2 separate regions of the Homo sapiens genome follow, and region 2 is linked to region 1. The links come from fine-mapping of genetic effects on gene expression. Tissue or cell type: tibial nerve. Region 1 holds a variant in brackets; the other region holds the start of a gene. All regions are shown on one strand. Distances are between the middles of the regions.

The links. PIP is the estimated chance that this variant, and not a neighbour inherited with it, causes the effect.
Region 2: SLCO1B3 starts here. The variant in region 1 is fine-mapped to the expression of SLCO1B3 in tibial nerve (GTEx, PIP above 0.99). The same link has a PIP of 0.9 or more in nasal epithelium.

The regions. Positions count from the first base shown.
Region 1 is chr12:20,911,898-20,919,897 of GRCh38, reverse strand. SLCO1B3 (solute carrier organic anion transporter family member 1B3) reads right to left here. Exons shown (of 16, transcript NM_019844.4): 16 at 2,987-3,894. The coding sequence ends at 3,651. The region is part of intron 13 of SLCO1B3-SLCO1B7 (SLCO1B3-SLCO1B7 readthrough); the gene reads right to left. All of the region lies in intron 1 of LOC124902894 (putative solute carrier organic anion transporter family member 1B7), which reads right to left. Among named protein-coding and RNA genes, the nearest start is that of SLCO1B3-SLCO1B7, 100 kb to the right of the region's middle. The variant C/T (reference allele first, on the strand shown) is at 3,783.
Region 2 is chr12:20,807,085-20,815,084 of GRCh38, reverse strand. SLCO1B3 (solute carrier organic anion transporter family member 1B3) reads right to left here and starts at 4,380. Exons shown (of 16, transcript NM_019844.4): 1 at 4,321-4,380; 2 at 1,447-1,561.

The DNA.
Region 1 (8,000 bases):
TCTCACCATATACAAAATTCAATTCAAAATAGATTAAAGATTTAAATGTAAAACCCAAAACTATGAAACTATTAGAATAATGCAAGGAGAAATGCTACATAACTTCAGCCTGGGCAAGGATTTATTAGACAAGATCTCAATAACTCAGGCAACAATAGCAAAAATACAGTAATTACATCAAGTTAAAAATCTTGTGTATAGAAAACAATCAACAGACTAAGGAGAATACCTACAGAATGAGAGAAAATATTTACAAATTATACATCTGACAAGAGGTTATTATCTAGAATTATAAGGAATTCAAACAACTCAATAGAAAAATAATGTAATTTAAAAATGGACAAAATACCTGAATAGATATTTCTCCAAGAAAGATATAGAAATGGACAACAGTTATATGAAAAAAATGCTCAATATCACTAACAATCAGGGAAATGCAAATAAAAAGCAGAATGAGATATCACCTCACCCCACTAAGAAAGGCTGTCATAAAAGACCAAAAACAAAACAAAAAAAAGAAAAGAAAAAATGCTGGCAATACTGTGGAAAAAAGGAAAGTCTTATACATTGTTGGGAATGGAAATTACTACAGCCATTATGAAAAACAGCATGGATATTCCTCAAAAAATTAAAAATAGATATACCATATGATCCAGCAATCCCACTACTGGGTATATCGTCACAGAAAATGAAATGAGTATGCTGAAGAGTCATTTTGCACTCCCATGTTAATTGCAGCACTGTTGATTTTAGCCAAAACATGGAATCAACCTAAATGCCATTAACAGAGAAATGGATAAAGAAAATGTGGCATATATACAAAATTGACTACCATTCTGCCACTAAAAAAGGATGAAATCCTGTCATTTACAAAAAAATAGTTGAGCCTGGAGAACATTATGTTAAGGGAAATAAGTCAGGTACAGAAAGAAAAATATTGCATGATGTCATTCATGTGAAGAATCTAAACAAATTGATCTCGTAGACATTAAGAGTAAAATTGTGGTTACCAAAGACAGGAAAAACAGGGGAAGGGGAAGATGGGGAGGAATTGGTCAATGAGTGCAATGTTCCAGTTAGGAGGAATAAGTTGTTGGTACTTACTGCATAGTAGGGTGACAATAGCTAACAATAATGCATTATATATTTCAAAAAGCTAGAAGAGAGGACTTTGAATGTACTCATAATTAAGAAATTATAAATGTATAAGGTGATGGATACACTAATAACCATGATTTGATTATTACACAATGTATACATGTATTGAAATATCACATTGTATTCAATATATATGATTATATGTGTGTGTGTATATGTGTGTGTGCATGTGATCACATTAGATTTGTTATATGATACCTACAAACCTAGCATGTATGTGGGTTTCCTCAAATTTCTGTTTGTGTGATTAATTTTTTTTCCTTAGGATTACAGTCTGAGAACAGGTATAAAGATATATATATACACACACACATACACACACACACATACATACACACGTATATATCTATATATCTTCCAGGCCAGTTCCCATATTCTAGTAATAATTTCTTGTGACTTTACTACACTCAGGTACACCTTTTCCTATACCATGGTGGTCTATCAAGGAATCCTAGCATCATGTGGAATGTTTTAAAGATATCCAAGCGATATCACACATGTTTGAATTTGGAATCTCTACAGTAGGTATATAATTATATTTCTTTTAAAATATATTTTTACAGTTGATTCTGATACAAAACATCTTTTAACCAATTGAGAATTATAAACTACAACCTCTAGCATTCACTAAGTAGAGATGTTGCTCCTGATAGTGACAGGAGACAGCCAAATGCCTAGGCAAATAGGGGCAGGTTTCCGGTGAAACCCCACCTCCAAGCTGATGACAGTTTAAAGTCCAAAAGCCAGGCTACAAGTTAAAGCCTTAGACCAGATTGAGAAGTTGTCTTCTTATTTGGCAGGCTTTCCTCTGACTGGTCCCACCCTCCAACTATTTTAGATATAACTACTCTTTCTTAATTGGTTTTCTATACTGTCATGCCCACCTTTGAGTGGTGCCTTCACTTTAACCTTTTTTGCATACTCAGAAACCAGTCAGCACACACTCCCCATCCTGTGCCTATAAAGACTCCAGACTCAGCTGGTAGACTGGGGAGACAGCCTGAATTCGAGGAAGAGACAGCAGGACTTCGGGGAAGACAACCGGCCCTTCCCATCCCCTCTCCAGCTCCCCTCTCCACTGAGAGTCGTTTTCATTACTCATTAAAACTCTCCACCTTCACCACCCTTCAACTGTCAATGTGACCTCATTCTTCTTGGACACCAGACAAGGGCCTGGAACCCACCGAATGCAGGTACCCAGAAAAATCTGTCACACTGGCCTTTGCCCTCACTGGCAGAGGGCAGCCACCCAAGGTAAAGAGACAAGGGGCCAACTGAGCTGCTAACATGCTGCCATCTGTTAGACTGTAGACGGTGGAACTAAAGGAGCACCATAACAACCCCTCTGGGGCTTCAGGATCCTGAGCACCCTTGCACCTTGCCTGGCTGCCAGCCCTGCATGTAACTCACTCGTTTCAGTGCCTGGAGCGGTTGCCCAGGTCCAGCATTCACTCACTCGCACCTGGTCTGGCCATGAGAAACTCACAGAGCTTGTTTCTGTGTCGATGACCAGGACAGCCCACATGGTCCTGCACTACGTCACTCACACTCTCCCTCCCACAAGGGGTTGAGCATGGCAGACCAAATAAACAGGGCACCTCTATTGTGAGTCCAGTGAAGAGGCCAAGAAATATCCTGCATCACTACCAGAAAATGCAATATTTAAATATTTGATCTCATTTTCTCTATTTCTTATCCAGCTTGTGAAGATGTGGAAGATATCTTCTTGTGCACAATGAATAAACAAACAAGTATGCAAGGAAGTAACACAGATTTTGCTTCTCCCAGAGAACAGACAGATGCAATGAAGACACATCTTATCAATGGGTTTTGCTTTCTCAAGCTAAAGTCGGTTTTTCTTAATCCACTTCCATGGGTCCAGTAGAAACTTAACACGTATTATAATAAGTTGTCTCACAATTACACCTTGCAATATTTGAATATTTCTATTTCTTCTGCAGGATCTTAATGGGAGGTTGGAAGAAGATCCATCGAGGTTGTTAGTCAAACACAAATTCAAATTTTAAATTAATAATATTTATAATTTCTGAAAAATATACAACTTAACATGAAAATATATATTATAGCATAAATCCAGGCCAGATTTTGGCCTAAGTAATACATCCAAAGTGTTTCATTTTTTTTAAAGGCATCAGGCTTTTCTCTTTATTTAGGCTATTAATCTATCTTGTCCTTTTTACCTCCCTTATATTCTAGTCACTGGTTTTATTAGCAGTTACAACTACCAAACAATTACTTTTTATTGTATCACACACTAACCATGCCTCTCACTTTAAATTTTTATGGATCATATATTCTAATCTTAACCATAAAGGCATAGCTATATCCTAACCATGGGTACTCCCATTTTTTATAGTTTATTATAGATGCATAGACTTATCCATTGGTCCACTGTAAGTAAAGAATGTTGGAATTGTCAGTGAAAGACCAGGAACACCTCAAAAATAACATCTTAATGAATCAATGCAATGTTAGTTGGCAGCAGCATTGTCTTGCATGTCCAAATTACATGTTTTACTATCTGTTCCAGCAGAAGGTACAAAATGTTCACCATTATTTAAGAATTCTAAGTTTGCTTCATCCATTACTTTTCTTTCATTGTC[C/T]GATGCCTTGGTATCTTTTCCTTGAAATTTTTTCTTCATAGCAAAAATGAAAACAATATATAAAACAAGTGCTGGGAATCTTAAAGCTATAGATAAGCCCAAGTAGACCCTTCTGTGAAAAGAGAAAATAGAGAGTCGATTATTATTTTAAATGTGTAAAATATCTTACATTTTTTTCTCCCCAGTATGCATATCTTAAAAGAAAGAAAAACAAGTTACACATACAAATATTAAGAGAACAATTCTATTTATTATTTTCATTGGGGGCATAAGATATTTTTCTATTATTAAAAAAACATATGAAGCTACAGAAACTAAACCCCAGCTGTCTCTAGCCTTCCTTTGGGAGGGAGGAAAATACATAACTCCAGCCCCCTCAAGCCATCTCATTCTACCTAAGGAGTGGGAGACAGAAACTGAGAAGCAAGTTTGAAGTTCACAGTCCAGAGGTACAGGCTCACTAAAAGATTGAGGCCTTATCATAGAACTACAGGATGCTACTTTGTCTTCATCGCCTTACACCACATTAATAAAGGCTTATATACAGCAATTCCTTTTACCCAATACATTTTGTCTGGCTGTCAAGAAAAATTTGCAAGTCACATACTAAAAGACAATAAACACAGTCTGAAAAGAATAAGACTTAAAACCAGACCCAGATATGTCAGGGAATATCAGGGATGGAAATTTAAAACAACTATTATTAATTTGTCAAGTGGTCTAATGGATAATGTAGACAGAATGTAAGAAAGGTTAGCAATTTAAGTAAAGAGATAAAAATTCTAAGAACCAAAATGAAAGAATACAGATAAGAAAACTGTAACAGAAATGATAAATGCCTTCATGGATTTATTATTAGATAGAGCACTGCTGAGGAAACAATCTCTAAGTTTATATCAATAAAAAAAGCAAAGAAAAATAAGACAAAAGAAAGAAAAAACAGAATAACCAAGAACATTGGAAGGACTACACAAGTGTTTATAATGAAAATACTTGAAGGGGAAAATGAAAGGAACAAAATAAAGATTTCAAATAATAAGTACAGAAAATTTTTATTGAATTAATGTCAGACACCAAACCACAGATCCAGGAAGCTCAAAAAACACCAAGAAGGATAAAGGCCAGAAAAACTATGCATAGGTTTGTTATTTTCAAGCTATAGAAAATCAAAGATGAAGAAAACATCCTGAAAGAAACCAAAAGGAAAAGCAAACCTTATTTATAGAGTAGAAAAGATTACATCAGCCTTCTCTTCAGAAACCATGCAAGCAAGAAGAGAGCAAAGTGAAATATTTAACTGTTAAGAAAAATAAAACACCAACTTAAAAATTCTGTACCATATGAAATTATCTTTCAAAAGCTAAGTCGAAATAAAGACACTGTCATACAAACAAAAATTGAGGGACTGTTTTGCCAGTAGACTCTCCTTGCAAGAAATCTTAAAAGAAGTTTGTTAGAAGGAAAATGATATAGGTCATAAACTCGGATATACATAAAGATGGAAGAATATCAGAGAAGAAATCAGTTAAGGTTAAATAAAAAAATTATTCTAAATTGATTTAATAGAAATCAGTTTCTTTAAAATAATAATAGAAACAATGTATTTAATTATATATAATATACATGCTTATTCATATGTGTATGTATGCTTACAGTAAGTGGAGTAAATGACAGCAATGACACAATGTGTAGGAAAGAAGAATTAGGGTTATTTTGGTATTATAAGGGTACTCATAATCTGTGAACTAATAAAGTGTTACTAAAATATAAACTTGGATTAGTTCTAAATGTATATTGCAAATTCTAGGAAAATCACTGAAATTTTTATTTAAAAAGTACAACTAATAAACTAACAAATGAGAGAAAATGAAATTATATAAAATGCTCAATTAAAACAAAACGGGAAGACAGAGAGTGGAATACAAAAATAGGATCAAAGAACAAGGAGAGCAAATAGAAAATAGTAACAAATATCGTCAGTATTCTTTCAATTATATCAGTAATCACTTTGAATGTCAATGATATAAATACACCAATTAAAAGACCAAAATAAGCCAGGCATGGTGGCTCATGCCTGTAATCCCAGCACTCTGGGGGGCCAAGATGGGAGAATCAAGTGAGTACAGGAGTTTGAGACCAGACTGGGCAACAGAGTTGCCCATCTCTAAAACAAACAAACAAACAAAAAATCAAAAAATTAGCTAGGCATGTTAGTTCATGCCTGTGTTCCCAGCTACATGGGAGGCTGAGGCAGAAGGATCTCTTGAGCCCAGGAGGTTGAGGCTACAGTGAGCCATGTTCAAGCCACTGCTCTACAGCCTGGGTAGCAGAGTGAGACCCCATCTCAAAAGATAACAATAAGATTGTTAGAGGATTAAAACCAAGAACCAAACTATATGTAGTCTACAAGAAACTCACTTTAAATATGAAGACATACAGAATAAAAGTAATTAGACTGAGGAAGATATACACTGATAACATTAATCAAAAGAAAATGGGAGTACCTATTTTAATTTTTTAATTTCAAACAGAGCAGACTTCAAAGCAAGGAAATTTATGAAGGATAAAAAAGTCTTTACATAATAACAAAGAAATCAGTTATCCTATTATCCTTTTACAAAACAGAACAATACTTAACATGTAAGCATGTAAAAATGGAGTGTCTAAATATGTGAGGAGAAAATGATAGAGCTGCAAAGAGAAATGCAGTAAGTCTTCACTTAACATTGTCTACAGGTTCTTGGAAATTATAATTTTAAAAGTGAATTTATGTATTGTATAATGAAACCAATTTCACCATAGATAATTGGTATAAAAATAGTTACTATGGTACATAGTGTATTGTTTTGCTTAAAATCAGTTTCTAAGAACCTATGGACAATGTTAAGTGGATACTTAATGTAAATGAACCCACAATTATGTTGGAGACTTCAACATGCCTCTATCAGAAATGCACGGATTCACCAGGCAAAATTCAATCAGACATAGTTGAACTCAACAACACTATCAACCAACAGTATAACAGATGTAACCTACTACATCAAACAGCAACAGACTACAAAGTCTTCCCAAGCTCATATAGAATATTCACCAAGATAGACCACATTCTGGTCTATAAAAGATATCTTAAGAAATTTAAGGCCAGGCGTGGTGGCTCAGGCCTGTAATCCCAGCACTTTGGGAGGCCAAGGCAGGCAGATCACTTGAGGTCAAGAATTTGACACAAGACTGATCAACATGGTGAACAACATGGTGAAACCCCGTCTCTACAAAAATACAAAAAAAAAAAAAAAAGGCTGGGCGCAGTGGCTCACACCTGTAATCCCAGCACTTTGGGAGGCCGAGATGGGTGGATCATGAGGTCAAGAGATTGAGACCATCCTGGCCAACATGGTGAAACCCCATCTCTACTAAAAATACAAAAATTAGCTGCGTGTGGGGGTGCAGGCCTGTAATCCCAGCTATTCAGGAGGCTGAGGTAGGAGAATCACTTGAACCTGGGAGGTGGAGGTTGTAGTGAACTGAGATTGCACCATTGCACTCCAGCCTGGGCGACAGCAGTGAAACTCCATCTGAAAAAAAAGAAAAGAAAAGAAAAAATACAAAAAAAAAAAAAAAAATTAGCCAGGTGTGATAGCACACACCTGTAATCCCCGCTACTCAGAAGGCCAAGACACGAGAATTGTTTGAACCCAGGAAGCAGAGGTTGCAGTGAGTGACATCGTACTGCTGCACTCCAGCCTTGGTAACAGAGCAAGACGGTCTCAAAATAAATAAATAAATAAATAAATAAATAAATAAATAAATAAATAAAAATAAAAATAAAATAGAAGAAATTTGAAAGAATGAAAATCATGTAATATCTGTCCTTAAACCACAAGGGAATTAAACTAGAAGTCAACAACAGAAAGATCATTGGAAAGTCTCAAAATCTGTGAAGATTAAGCAATACACTTCTAAGAAACATATGGGTCAAGATGAAATTTCATGAGAAATTTAAAAATATTTTGAAATAAGTGAAAATAAAATTATAACATCAAATGTTATGGATGCAGTGAAAGCAGAATTAGAGATAAATGAAGAATATCTTAAATCAATCATTTAATCTTTTACCTTAGCAAACTAGAAAAAGAAGAGCAAATTAAATCCAAAGTAATCCGAAGATAATAGTAAAAGTAGGGCACAGTGAAATTTAAAATGGGACATGAGGGGAGAAAA
Region 2 (8,000 bases), 100 kb after region 1:
TGACCTTACCATCATCATGATCTTACTGTATTTAGGGTTTATCCACTTATTTTTCAAGAGAAAATACATGCATGTAGTTGAAAAATGCAAAAAAAAAAAAAAAGAAAAGAAAAGAAAAGGCAAGATTCTGCTTATAACCTTTGTCCCCTTATCCAGAAATCTGGTATGCTTTTTTATTTTTTTTTTTTGAGACGGAGTCTTGCTCTGTCTCCCGGGCTGGAGGGCAGTAGCGTGATCTCGGCTCACTGTAAGCTCTGCCTCCCAGGTTCACGCCATTCTCCTGCCTCAGCCTCCTGAGTAGCTGGGACCACAGGCGCAGGTGCGTGCCACAACGCCCGGCTAATTGTTTTGTATTTTTAGTAGAGACAGGGTTTCACCGTGTTAGCCAGCATGGTCTCGATCTCCTGACCTCCTGATCCGCCCGCCTCGGCCTCCCAAAGTGCTGGGATTACAGGCGTGAACCACCGCGCCCAGCCTTAATATGCATTTTTAATTAAATACATAATATTTTCTCTTTTAATATAAATGTAAGCATACCAGTATTACTGCACTCTACCTTTTTATCTTCTGTATATACTTTATATTAATAAAAGTCCTCATTTTGCTTATGGTAGCAGGGTATTCTGTTGTTCATAATATATGTAACTAGTTCTATATCGTTAACTATTTAGCTTATATCTAATTATTTCATATTAGAAAATGTTCTTAATATGTTATATGTCATTTTCTGTGTGGTCATATCTGTAGGATAAATTCCTACAAGTGAAGTTTTGAAGTCAAAGTATATGAGAAATCATAAGTTTCAGAGTTATTAAGCCCCTATTTTAAAGACCAGTAAAATGAGTCAACTTTTTACGTCAGTTGACTCTTTTATATAGAACAGTGGAATATTTATAAGGTTTAGAGATGTATTCTTGTTCATACATATATGCATAACACATATTTATGTATATAAAGTATATAAGCAGACACATAACATAGATATAGGTATATGTTATGTATATAGCATATATATGTGGATACATGCTATGTAGATACTTGCTATGTAGCTGCTCATATAGATACCTTAGATATGTAAATATCTAAGTATGTAAATATCAATGTTATCTATATAAGCATCCGATTTGTAATAGGATACTGATTATATAATATGTATGATATAGGTTATATGTACAATTGATTCTCACGTTTTGCAATAATTATGTTCCATAAAGTTGCTGGGAACACTGAATTTGCAAATATTAATCCATCATTCCTAGAAGAGATACAGTGTTAGGTGACTGTGTGGCTTTGGTCACAATATTTTAATCAACGGATCAATACATAACTTAATACATAATGTTTTATGTATGTTTTTGTTTAAAGACACCTTAGTATATACTGTTGATTCATTAACATTGAATTAGTGGCCAATAGCACTGTAGTTCATGCCTGAGGGAAACTTACATAGCATATGTACCTCTTCTGTCAGGCCCTCTAGGAGGTGGGAACAACGGGACAACACTTCAGGGCTATGCTTGAAGTCCATTTAAAACAGTAAACTCAGCATCGCAAAGCACAACTATGGAAACAATGTGGCGATAAATGCACTGTGAAGTTTATAGTATGGGAGCTGAGAGAGGAAGGCAGAGCTTCACTTTGTTCCACTTCAACTGGAAACAGAGCAACTCAAATTTTTCACCACTCTGCTCATGCATGCCAATGATCACAAAAGCCCAGCAGTATTAATTTTGGTGTCACAAACAAATTTTAGTGTTTAGACAAATTTTCTAATATAGAATCTGTGAATAATGAAGATCTACTGCATATTTTATGCATTAATTTACTCAACAAGGATTTATTGATTCTCTATATTATAAATGCATAAAAACCATAAATATATATCATGCATATTTAGTGGATAATGCATGAATATGGAAAAATCAATATCTGAAGATATTATCACTTATGTATATGCGAGTGTATATAAATACACTCATGAATGGAGAAACCCATACCTATGTATCTCTAAGAGAAGTTCAATTATTCCACTTTTTGTATGTGTTTTGTAGGTAAAGTGAGGAAAAAAATCAATAATTTGGTGGTCTCAAGGTAATAAGCAGCCCCTTAATAAATTTACACCACTTTTTCCACGAATATCTCTGTTTCTTCATAATTTAAAAGTTGGAAAATATTTATTTTTTACCAATTAATTCTATAATTGCAAATCTTTTTGAACGACTTGCAAGGCAGATAGTCTTCCTTCAGCTTTAGAGTTTTCTTTTTCTTTATACTAAACAAATATTCTTGAAGGCTTGAAGACTATTATCTCACCACTCAAGCCTTGTTTCTTTCAATTGATTAATTTCTACTTGTCCTGTCTTCCAGCTTGCTTTCTTTCCTATGCATATCATGTCCATTCTTGGAATCATTCAAAGATCCCTCTTACAACAAAAATAAAACTTACACTTCCTATTTGAGGGTCTTCACAGCCTAAATGAATCCAAGTTTTTAGTCCCATTTCCCAATACAACCATAAGCACTTGCAGATGTATGGAACCACTGTCCCAACAGAAAAGCTCTCTACCTTCATGTATATGTCTTCCATTCCTGGAATGTCCTTCCCTATCTCTTGGCTGTAATGCGGCTCCAAATCACACCACTTTAATGTTTCCCTATTTACCTCTAGTTGAAATAAACTCTCTCATCCTCTCATCCTTCTGTACCACTGGAGAACATACCCGAATAATCATTACTTTTTTCTGTTATTTCCCGTACTTTCCAAGACAACTATTCCACACCTCTCTCTTTTATGTTCAGATAAAATACCCATCCAGAAAAATAAGAAATGTGGGCACTTGGTTTCTCATCTCTCAGAAAGGTTAAATTGTATCAAGTAGGCCGGGAGCAGTGACTCATGCCTGTAATCCCAGCACTTTGGGAGGCCGAGGCGGGCAGATCACCTGAGGTTGGGAGTTCGAGACCAGCCTGACCAACACAGAGAAACCCCATTTCTGCCAAAAATACAAAATTAGCTGGGTGTGGTGGTACATGCCTGTAATCTCAGCTACTCTGGAAGCTCAGGCAGGAGAATCACTTGAACCCAGGAGGCTGAGGTTGTGGTGAGCTGAAATCACGCCATTGCACTCCAGCCTGGGCAACAAGAGCGAAACTCCTTCTCAAAAAAAAAAAAAAAAAAATGTATCAAGTAAGTACAAAGTACCTACAAAACTTGAATATCAATTTAGCCTTGAATAAATACCACACTTTTTACTTCATTGTGGCATTTTAAGCCTTATTTAGAAGCGTTTAATATATTTTGCTCTGAACATATTATTTCTGAGTTCCAAATTATTGACATAAATAAATGTTGAGGACACAATATGTTTATAGACAGAGCCACAGGCATTTGTATGCAGCATTGCAACTCTTCCCTGAACAGAACAGGTCAGTTCTTCACAGTTTGATTGGGCTGAAGTAGAGGGCAGAATCTTACCAGCCTCTGCTTATTTCTGTTTAGCTTTTCATATTTAAGGGGTTATAGAAAACCAGTGCAGGCCAAGTGACCCAGTTTCTAGCATGTACCTATGGAACTGAGGAGGATAAAAGGGAAAACAGCATTTCCTAACTTCTTAGATTGTTCAGAGGAGAGAATTTCTGCATCCCCACCTTACTTTCACAATAAAAATAACTGTCTTATCAGGGAAGCCACCTTCCTGAATGGGTGAAGGGGACCATTATTTATTGAGCTGTTAATTCTTTCCAAGAGCTGTGCCCAGAAGATTTTTTTCTCTTATTTGAACAGAGATAAAAAAGTTATCTAGAAAATCTCTTTCCCCTCACCCTAAATCAAACGAGTTGAATGGAGGAAAGTGAGGTGATTAAGTGACTTTGAAACATATTTTCCACCCCTCCACCCGCCCACTCCTACTTATCCAGTTAAAGTGAAATCAAAGAAATAGGGAGCCTGGTATAGTAATTCAATACAGTTTATACAAATAATTATCTTATAGTATATTTTAAGAGAGTAACTAGAAGTCCATCCTTTCAGACTTCATGTTTCATTTGTTTAGAAAGCAATAGAAATAGGACTCCAAACTTTATTTTTCACTTTATAAAGGTATGATTTACTCTTATTTTTGAGTATATAAATCTGAGGCTCTTCTATTTCTAGAAGGGATATTTACAAGGCTTTAAGGGCTCAGAACAAAAGTGTGGAGAAGACACAGAGCATAAAATCTGTAATATTTATCATAACTACCAAAAACATTTTCACTGAAATTTGTTAAAATTTCTTACATAAAAGAAATGTTTTAATTAGACAACCTCGACGGTTCTTACCTTGACTTTGAATGCTACAGCAACTGCAACAAGTCCATCCTTTTTCTGATGTTAAAGTCTCACTTTAAATGGTTAGTTGGCTTTTTATTTGTTTGTTTTTATGAGTCCAATGATGATTAACCATCTTATTAGGTCATTGTCCTAGGCAAACAGAAAAAACATACCTAGCTAATTCTAGGAGTTCACCCCAGAAGCCTATCTTTTAAACATTTTATTAATAATTTCTCAGAATGTACACATTATGTTAACATTAGAAAATAAATTATTTCTGGGAATGATTTATTTCTTATTCAATTAAGTTGGTTGCATAAGATTTTCTTCTTTAGAAATACAAATACAACACATTATCCAAAGTATTTAAAACTATTCCAAATAGAAAATATGTCAAGGCGATTTTTTAAAATGTCCCTACATGTTACATTAGCATTCAAAAAATAAAACATACCCTCTTTGCTTGTTACATGTGTATGGATCTAATATGACGTACATGGACACTGGATATCTCACATGGAATACTAAATTGCCAATTAATTACAAGACTAGTCTTCTAAATGACAAAAATCAAGACTAGTTTGTATGATATATTCCTTACATCAATGTGTAAAGGAAGAATGATCTCCTTCTATTGACTTGCTCTTTAGAGAATGGAAGACCTTCACTCAGTTGAAACTTTTCTTGAGTAAGGATGAAGTCAAATTAATTAATTCAGTAACTCAAACATATTTGACTCCCTACTATATCTCAGGCACATGGCTGTGTTTTAGAAGTGTACTATAAAAATATAAATAATAAACGGAGTCTTCTCTCACATGTATATATACACACACATGCATGAGTGTATGTATATATGTATTTATGTGTATGTGTGTATGTATATAGCAAAGAGAGAATGCATGTATGAAAACATTGTTACCCCTTATCACTGACAGGACAGTTGTTGATACAGTTGCAGCAATATGTATTTAATTTCTATATCACAGTTATTTGATAAACTAGTTTTTTTTTTTTTTTTTGAGACGGAGTCTTGCTCTGTCACCCAGGCTGGAGTGCAGCGGCACGATCTCGGCTCACTGCAAGCTCCGCCTCCCGGGTTCACGCCATTCTCCTGCCTCAGTCTCCCGAGTAGCTGGCACTACAAGCGCCCGCCACCACGCCCGGCTAATTTTTTCGTATTTTTAGTAGAGACGGGGTTTCACCATGTTAGCCAGGATGGTCTCGATCTCCTGACCTCGTGATCTGCCCACCTCGGCCTCCCAAAGTGCTAGGATTACAGGCGTGAGCCACTGCGCCCAGCCTAGATTAGTTCTATACCTGGTTAATTCATGGAAGTATTAGAATAATGAAAGGAACCGGAGTGTGGAGGGAGAGAAGGATTAGAAAATGTGGGGAACACTGAAGTGTAGACCTGGGGCAGGGAAAATTAGATATAGGCTCCCAAACACCCCTCTGTTGAGTCAAAATCTACTGGGGAGCCTTTGTCAAAAGTGCGATCCAGCCCCACACCCAAGAGATTCTGATTCACGAGTTCGGAGATTATGCTTTTTAAATAAGCACTTAGAATAATTTTTACATACTGTCAGCTTTTGAGAACCATCATAGCAGAGATACTAAACATTAATTATCAGTTTTATGGCTTTTCTTTTATTCAGAATGGGAAGACAGTTTGGATATTCTCATGCTAATGGTTTTCTCCTCACACATCCATTTCATTCAAGACACATCAATTTCATTTGGGACAAATACATGCATAGAATGAAGATAAAATAGTACAAATGCACTGAGAAACTTTCTAATCCCTAAACTAACGCTATCAGTGGTAAAATTCTGGAATGTTTTCAGAAGTCAAAGAGCATTCTCTGTGCCCTTTTTTCTTCCTATGTAAGTAATTAGACTTCCCTTTTTGTGGGACTTGTGGAAAAAATAAGAGTGGTCAGAGGAAACACATTGCAACACTTTTTTTCAAGATAAATATTATGCTAACAGCTGTGGATCAATACAACTCCAAATTTGCTTAAAACAATCTGCTGTTTGTTGCCGCAATAATCATCACAGTTCTGATGAAATATTATGGGCTTTGAAGTTTGATAAACTTTGATACCAATGTCTCTGCTACTTGACAGCAGTATAAATTTCCTAAGTTGTTTCACCATTCTAAGTATCTATGCTTTCATCCATTAAGTGGGAAGGCTATAGTTGTAATAAAGATTTGCTCTGTGTAAACTGCCTCACCCAGTACCTGGCACATTATAGATTCCATACCTAAATAGAGTCATTGTATGGCATTTGCATATTGTCCATTTTTAAAGCAGTTAATTCATATTACAAGAGTAAAAGTCAAGTCTCTGAAACACGTCCCCAGCAATTTTTCCTAATAGTTTTTAGTCTGAGTTCTCAGATGGGTACTGGGTGCGTATTCCCAGAAGGAAACTTCAGGCTCAAAGCAGACCTGCCATTGCCTACCCACCCCACCTTCCTTAGCTGGTCAAGACGTAATTACAGAAAGCTGCACTCCCTGGAAAGAACCCCCATGTCTCCATACCCACTAAGGGTCAAAGCTCTGGTATCATTATGACTAATCTTATGGCAATTCTCTCTCTTAATGTCAGTCACCACCATAAGAAGGTAGGGGCAAGGCGCGGTGGCTCATACCTGTAATTCCAGCACTTTGGGAGGCCGAGGCAGGCGGATCACGAGGTCAGGAGATGGAGACCATCCTGGCTAACACGGTAAAACTCCCTCTCTACTAAAAATACAAAAAATTAGCTGGGCGTAGTGGTTAGAGGTGACAGCGTCCTGGCAGCCCTTGCTCCCTCTCCGCGGCACCTCCTCCGCCTTGGCGCCCACTCTGGCCGTGCTTGAGGAGCCCTTCAGCCCCCCTCTGCACTGTGGGAGCCCCTTTCTGGGCTGGCCGAGACCGGAGCCGGCTCCCTCAGCTTGCTGGAAGGTGTGGAGGGAGAGGCGCGGGCGGAACCCGGGCTGCGTGCGGCGCTTGCGAGCCAGCGCCAGTTCCCGGTGGGCGTGGGCTCGGCAAGCCCTGCACCCAGAGCGGCGGGCCGCGCCGGGCAGTGAGGGCCTTAGCACCTGGGCCAGCAGCTGCGGAAAGTGCGCCAGGTGTCCCAGCAGTGCCGGCCGGCCAGCGCTGCGCTGGAATTCTCGCCAGGCCTCAGCTGCCTCCCCCTGGGGCAGGGCTGGGGACCTGCAGCCTGCCATGCCTGAGCCTCCCCCTCTCCCCCTGCCGCCCCTCCTCCCCCCGCCGCCCCACACACGGCAACGCACCACGGGCTCCTGCGCCAGCTGGAGCCTGCCCGAGGAGCGCCGCCCCCTGCTCCAGGAGCACCTGGTCCCATAGACCGCCCAAGGGCTGAGGAGGGCGGGGCGCAGGGCATGCGGGACTGGCGGGCAGTTCCACCTGCAGCCCCAGGTGAGGCAGCCTCTGGGTGAAGCCAGCTGGGCTCCTGAGTCTAGCCAGGACTTGGAGAACCTTTATGTCTAGGTAAGGGATTATAAATACACCAATCAGCACTCTGTGTCTAGCTCAAGGTTTGTAAATGCACCAATCAGTGCTCTGTGTCTAGCTGATCTGGTGGGGACTTGGAGAACCTTTATGTCTAGCTAAGGGATTGTAAATACACCAATCAGCACTCTGTGTCTAGCTCAAGGTTTGTAAATGCACCAGTCAG